2 separate regions of the Homo sapiens genome follow, and region 1 is linked to region 2. The links come from fine-mapping of genetic effects on gene expression. Tissue or cell type: whole blood. Region 2 holds a variant in brackets; the other region holds the start of a gene. All regions are shown on one strand. Distances are from middle to middle.

Region 1 (2,916 bases), 59 kb before region 2:
TTTTTATTGTTTTTTTTTTTTTTTTTTTTTTAATGGAGTCTTACTCTTATCACCCAGGCTGGAGTGCAGTGGCGCAATCTCAGCTCACCATAGCCTCCACCTCTGGGGCTCCAGTGATTCTTTTACCTCAGCCTCCCAAGTAGCTGGGATTACAGGCACGCACCACCACACCCAGCTAATTTTTGTATTTTCAGTAGAGATGGGGTTTCACCATGTTGACCAGGCCGGTCTTGAACTCCTTTCCTCAGGTGATCCATACGTCTCTGTCTCCCAAAGTGCTGGGATTACAGGCATGAGCCACTGTGCCCGGCCTGTTCTTTAGTTATTTAGTGTTATATAATCCTAATACTTGTCAATCACTGAACTCTACCAAGGGAAAGTGTATGTATATAAAAGACCGTTGACCTGAACATAAGAATGAAGTTCCTTTTTTCTTTTTTGTGTGTGCTCTAGATGTCCAGAGAAATTTCTCTAGTAACAAACTATAGAAATGATCCCTGAAAGTATAGTCTTTATAAATAAAGTTCTTGACCATTAAATGACAAGCTAATCAGAGTCTCTTCCTGTCTGTTCCACATACCCATACTGAGCTACAACCTAGTGGTTGCAGAGCACGAAGTTTCTGTTCCCCAACTGAATGTTGATTTTCAAGACTAAATCCTCATGGATTTTAAGTAAAATTCTATGTTTAGGAAAGAAACATTGTGTTACTGAAGAAATGATGCCGCAAATTGACTCTAATTCAAAGGACTTAAATAACAGGTATAGAAGATGCAGATACCAAGCAGCAGTTCCGTGTACTTACCCTGAACAGTAACGATATTGTCTCTGATGGTGCAAATTTTGTTATAACTAATTGGAATAGATCTACTTTTTAAAAACCTTGGCAAATAAGATTCATATTTTCAAAAATCAAAAACATTGTTATAAAGCCTAGGCAATATAGACATAATTATTTTGTTTTTAAATTAAGGGAAGAATAATAAAGAAAATTTTATTACAGAACAACTATGTTACATTTTAGATTTTTCTCTCGATATTAACATTTGCTAAGCGAATGAGCATTAATTTAATATTTCCCTAAAAGTTAAGAACAAAACATAGAAAAGAAGAAAAAACCATTTTACAGCCCTTAAGTAAACTCTGTTTTCCTCTTCTAGGATTGAAAAACTACACTTGTCAAGACTCCTTTTTTTAAAGCAACTTGCGCAAAGTATATTCAATTTTCATCATTTCTACAGAAAAATGAACTAGAACAAATGAAACCCTGTAGGAATAGAGTGGTCGTTGCCACATCCCTTACATTTGCCTCTCCACGGGATTTCTGGCTTTCTTACCTTCTAACTTCTTACGGAGAAGCAGACAGCACTGTGTCGTGAAAATCTTACTGCTGGTTCAAGTCCCAGCAGGCTCTGGTCATTTTCTGAGCAGACGCTGTTCCCTATTCCAGGTCAGGGTACACTATGCTAATGAGTTCTGGCAATGGTCCAATCAAAATCTAGATGCTCTAGGCTCTGGATAGGTAAGAGCAGCCTGGGAGTCACTTAACCAGCCTGATTCTTCCCAGAATGCCAGCAATGTGATGAATATTCTATGATGTGTCTCTGAACTTCCCCCTCCCTTTATGTTATGAGGACATTTGAACTAAAATGGACATTGAAAAGAACCTCATAAGGAAGTACAGATGTTTTTCTTCTTGTGATGTTACAGGTTGGGCCCCAGGCAGACGATTCACAGTAGGTCCTAATTCTCCCACTATTTACCCGGCAGGTAATAGTTCTCTCTCATGTGTGCAAGAGAGAGAAGACAGACAGACAGAGATAGAGAGATATTATGGTGAGGAAATTTACTGGAATAGACAGTGGATAGCCAACATCCTCTATACCAGAAATACTGAAATGCTATCTTAACCCTAGCAATAATGTCCCACTAATTCTAAGTGTTCTGATCCCCTAAAAATATACAATTCTTGGCCGGGCGTGGTGGCTCACACCTGTAATCCTAGCACTTTGGGAGGCCGATGTGGGCGGATCACAAGGTTGGGAGTTCAAAACCAGCCTGGCCAAGATGGTGAAACCCCGTCTCTACTAGAAATACAAAAATTAGCCAGGTGTGGTGGCGAGCGCCTGTAATCCCAGCTATTTGGGAGACTGAGGCAGAGAATTGCTTGAACCCGGGAAGCGGAGGTTGCGTGAGCTGAGATTGCGTCACTGCAGTCAAGCCTGGGTGACAGAGCGAGGCTCCATCTCAAAAAAACAAAAACAAAACAAAACAAAACAACAAAAAAAAACGAACAAACAAAAACCAATTATTTCTTCTAGAGATACCCTCAGTGCTATTCTTCCTTTTAGAGACATCCGCAGTACAGCCTAAATCAGTTCAGTTCATATGTTTTGTTCTAGGTAGTCTGCCAGGCCTTGGCAACACAAGAGAGAATGAAAGCCATTAAGAAGTTCATTCTAGTAGAAAAGATGATTAAAGCTACTAAATAAGGCCGATTTAATTTGATGTATAGAATAAAAGTAATATAAATGAGAAGGCTATTAAGCTGGAGGGAGGAGAACCAAAGGAAACCCACCAAAATAATGCTCGATGAGCCTTTTGAAGGACAAATAGATATTTATCAAGGCGTGAAGGACTGGAAGAGGGTGTTTCGGGGAGTGACAATATCCTGGACAACATGACGAGGGATCAGTACCTGTCAGGAAGGTCCAGACTTTCAAGGATGAGGCTTAGGAGGCAGAGATGAGAAGGCGAGAAGGCAAAAGGCTTGGAAAGCCTCATAGTTGCATTCGGCGGCCCCTAATAGATTTCTCATTCGTCTTTCAGTTCATGAACAAATTCCTTTCCTGCCTGAAGTTTAAGACCCTGCTTCATCTTTTTTTTTTTTTGAAACGGAGTTTTGCTCTTGTTGCC
Region 2 (2,916 bases):
GAGGAGACTGAGAAGATGGCACCAGCCTGGAGATGAGGGTGGGCATGTTCTTCTCCTTAGCACCCATGAAGGCCCACCGTCTATATTCAGCCTGGCCCAGGCTGCATGCTTTTCCTTCTGAATCCCCGAAGACTGTATGGTGCTGGCCACCAGAGAAGCCTACCTGGACTTGGTAGAGTTCTTTTTTTTTTCTTTTTTTTTTTTTTTTAGACGCAATCTTGCTCTGTCACCCAAGCTGGAGTGCAGTGGCATGGTCTCGGGTCACTGCAAGCTCCGTCTCCCTGGTTAACGCCATTCTCCTGCCTCAGCCTCCCAAGTAGCTGGGACTACAGGTGCCCACCACCACGCCCAGGTAATTTTTTTTGTATTTTTAGTAGAGACGGGGTTTCACCTTGTTAGCCAGGATGGTCTCAATCTCCTGACCTTGTGATCCGCCCGCCTCAGCCTCCCAAAGTGCTGAGATTACAGGCGTGAGCCACTGCGCCTGGCCTGGACTTGGTAGAGTTCTTGAAGGATCCCAGGTTCTGGGGTATGAAGCAAGATTCTGTGCCTGGGGTTCCAAGCTGATGGTTGTTGAAGAGGCCAAAGCCATATTCTGTGTATGTGCCCTTTATAGGGGATGGAATGGTGAGGCAGGTGCTACAGAAGGGCATCAGGTCCCAGCTTCCCCTGAATTTCAGCATCATATCTGGGGGACCAGGAATCATGCCCTGTCGGCCATCACGGTTGGCACATAATTCAAGCACAAGGCCCAGATGGCCTTGCTCCCACAGCACAAGGTATCTAGGTCACTGTCAGCTGTCAGCATCACCAAGTGGCCATTTCCTGAGGCCAACTTCACCGTGGGCATGTCCAGCTGCACTTGCACAATCATCATGCTCTTCTTCATGGGATCTAACAGCCTGATCACACTGTAATTGTTCTGGAAGCAGCCTCAGAGGAAGACATGGCCATCTTCTGTGAGGACCACTATATGACTGTCTCCTGCTGACACCTGTATCAACTTCTCTTGCAGTTCCACTTTTCCGGGGACCATCTCTGAGACCTCCACTGATGCGTCCCTTCCCACGGCACCCTCCTCATTGCAGCCGAAGCACTAGACCTGGCCATTTTGCTTAGACATAATATGGTGTGCCTGTCCCCAGCCTCAGCCTACACAGCATCCTCTTGAACCAGCACCAGCGCTGGCTACTTTTTCTTTTGAATGTTTATTATGCAAATTGGGTCATTCTTGTGATACCCAACTAAATCAAAGTAGAAAGGACAGGTTGGAAAAGCATCAGGGCACATAGCACTGATCCAATAACTGAATTCTCCACAAGCCCAGCTGCTGCAATGGCCTGCTATAGGTAAGATCAGTTTTACCCAGTAGCTGCTGAAATGCCCTGCTGTGACTCTACGACTAGCTTTACCGACTACTGTCACTCACCAATCGGAGCTTGCCAGCTCCCAAAATCTTCTCCAGTGCCAACGAGCTTTCTTTCAAAACCATATGTAATATTTCCCTTTCTAATAAAACTCCTAACCTTCTCTTTGTCCTTCGGACACACTGAAGACCACCCCATCTGTGTGTGTGCACCAAATTGCAATTCTGTGATTCCTAAGGAGAAA[T/C]ATTACATTTAGAGATTTGTCTTTATATTTTTATTTTGACTTTGACGCTCCCTGTCACACTCTCACCCAGCTCCAGTGAGCCTACATTGCCCTGGCCCACTGTCAGCACCAAGCCTGGTTCAGTTTTATGGGACCTCTGTGAGACTGAGGGATGAAGAAGGTGGCCCCGTCAGGTTTTCTGGTCAGGAGGGCTCAGCTGTGGGGGGAGCTAAAAGCATGGCAAGGAGGCAGTGGATCTCACTGTCTGGGTACAAGTGTCCTTCACCTTCTTGCTTTTGGGGATGAAATCTTCTGGGAGTGATCTTCTCTTAGTTATGTACTTGGGTGAAATATTCCTGTCCTCAGCACAGGTTGACCTCAAGGAACACCAGTGCTCACCAGCAGGGCCACCAAATACCCAGAACACATCCTCTGCAGGCCTCGTCCCAACGCTGGATGAGATGAGAAAGGGCATTTATAAGTTCTTAAATGTTTTCTTTTCTTTCTTTCTTTCTTTCTTTCTTTTTTTTTTTTTTTTTGAGAGGGAGTCTCATTCTATTGCCCAGGCTGGACTGAAGTGCCGCGATCTTGTCTCACTGCAACCTCTGCCTCCCAGGTTCAAGCAATTCTCCTGTCTCAGCCTCCCTAGTAGCTGGGACTACAGGTACCTGCCACCATACCTGGCTAATTTTTGTATTTTTAGTAGAGATGGGATTTCACCTTGCTGGTCAGGCTGGTCTAAAACTCCTGACCTCAGGTGATCCACCTCCCTCAGCCTCCCAAAGTGCTGGGATAATAGGAGTGAGCCACCGCGCCTGGCCTCTTTTCTTTTTTTTTTTTTTTTTTGAGACAGAGTCTCGCTCTGTCACCCAGGCTGGAGTGCAGTGGTGCGATCTTGGCTCACTGCAAGCTCTGCCTCCTGGGTTCACGCCATTCTCCTGCCACAGCCTCCCAAGTAGCTGGGACTACAGGTGCCTGCCCCAACTCCTGGCTAATTTTTTTTTGTATTTTTAGTAGAGTCGGGGTTTCACCATGTTAGTCAGGATGGTCTCGATCTCCTGACCTTGTGATCCACCCACCTCGGCCTCCCAACGTGCTGGGATTATAGGTGTGAGCCACCATGCCTGGCCCTTTTCTTTTTCTTTTTTTTTAAATTGAGACAGGGTCTTGCTCTGTCACCCAGGAGAGAGTGCAGTGGCACGAACATGGCTCACTGCAGCCTCAATCTCCCTGGCTCAAGCAATCCTCCCACCTCAGCCTCCTGAGTAGCTGGAACTACAGACATACACCACCACACTTGGCTAATTTTTGTATTTTTTGTAAAGA

The links. PIP is the estimated chance that this variant, and not a neighbour inherited with it, causes the effect.
Region 1: GCM1 starts here. The variant in region 2 is the best candidate, but not a certain one, in a credible set for the expression of GCM1 in whole blood (INTERVAL, PIP 0.53).

What each region holds. Positions count from the first base shown.
Region 1 is chr6:53,147,417-53,150,332 of GRCh38, forward strand. It overlaps GCM1 (glial cells missing transcription factor 1), which reads right to left and starts at 1,425. Exons shown (of 6, transcript NM_003643.4): 1 at 1,338-1,425. It also overlaps the pseudogene LOC124901513.
Region 2 is chr6:53,206,756-53,209,671 of GRCh38, forward strand. No RefSeq gene overlaps it. Among named protein-coding and RNA genes, the nearest start is that of GCM1, 59 kb to the left of the region's middle. RefSeq lists an enhancer at 910-1,079. The variant T/C (reference allele first, on the strand shown) is at 1,612.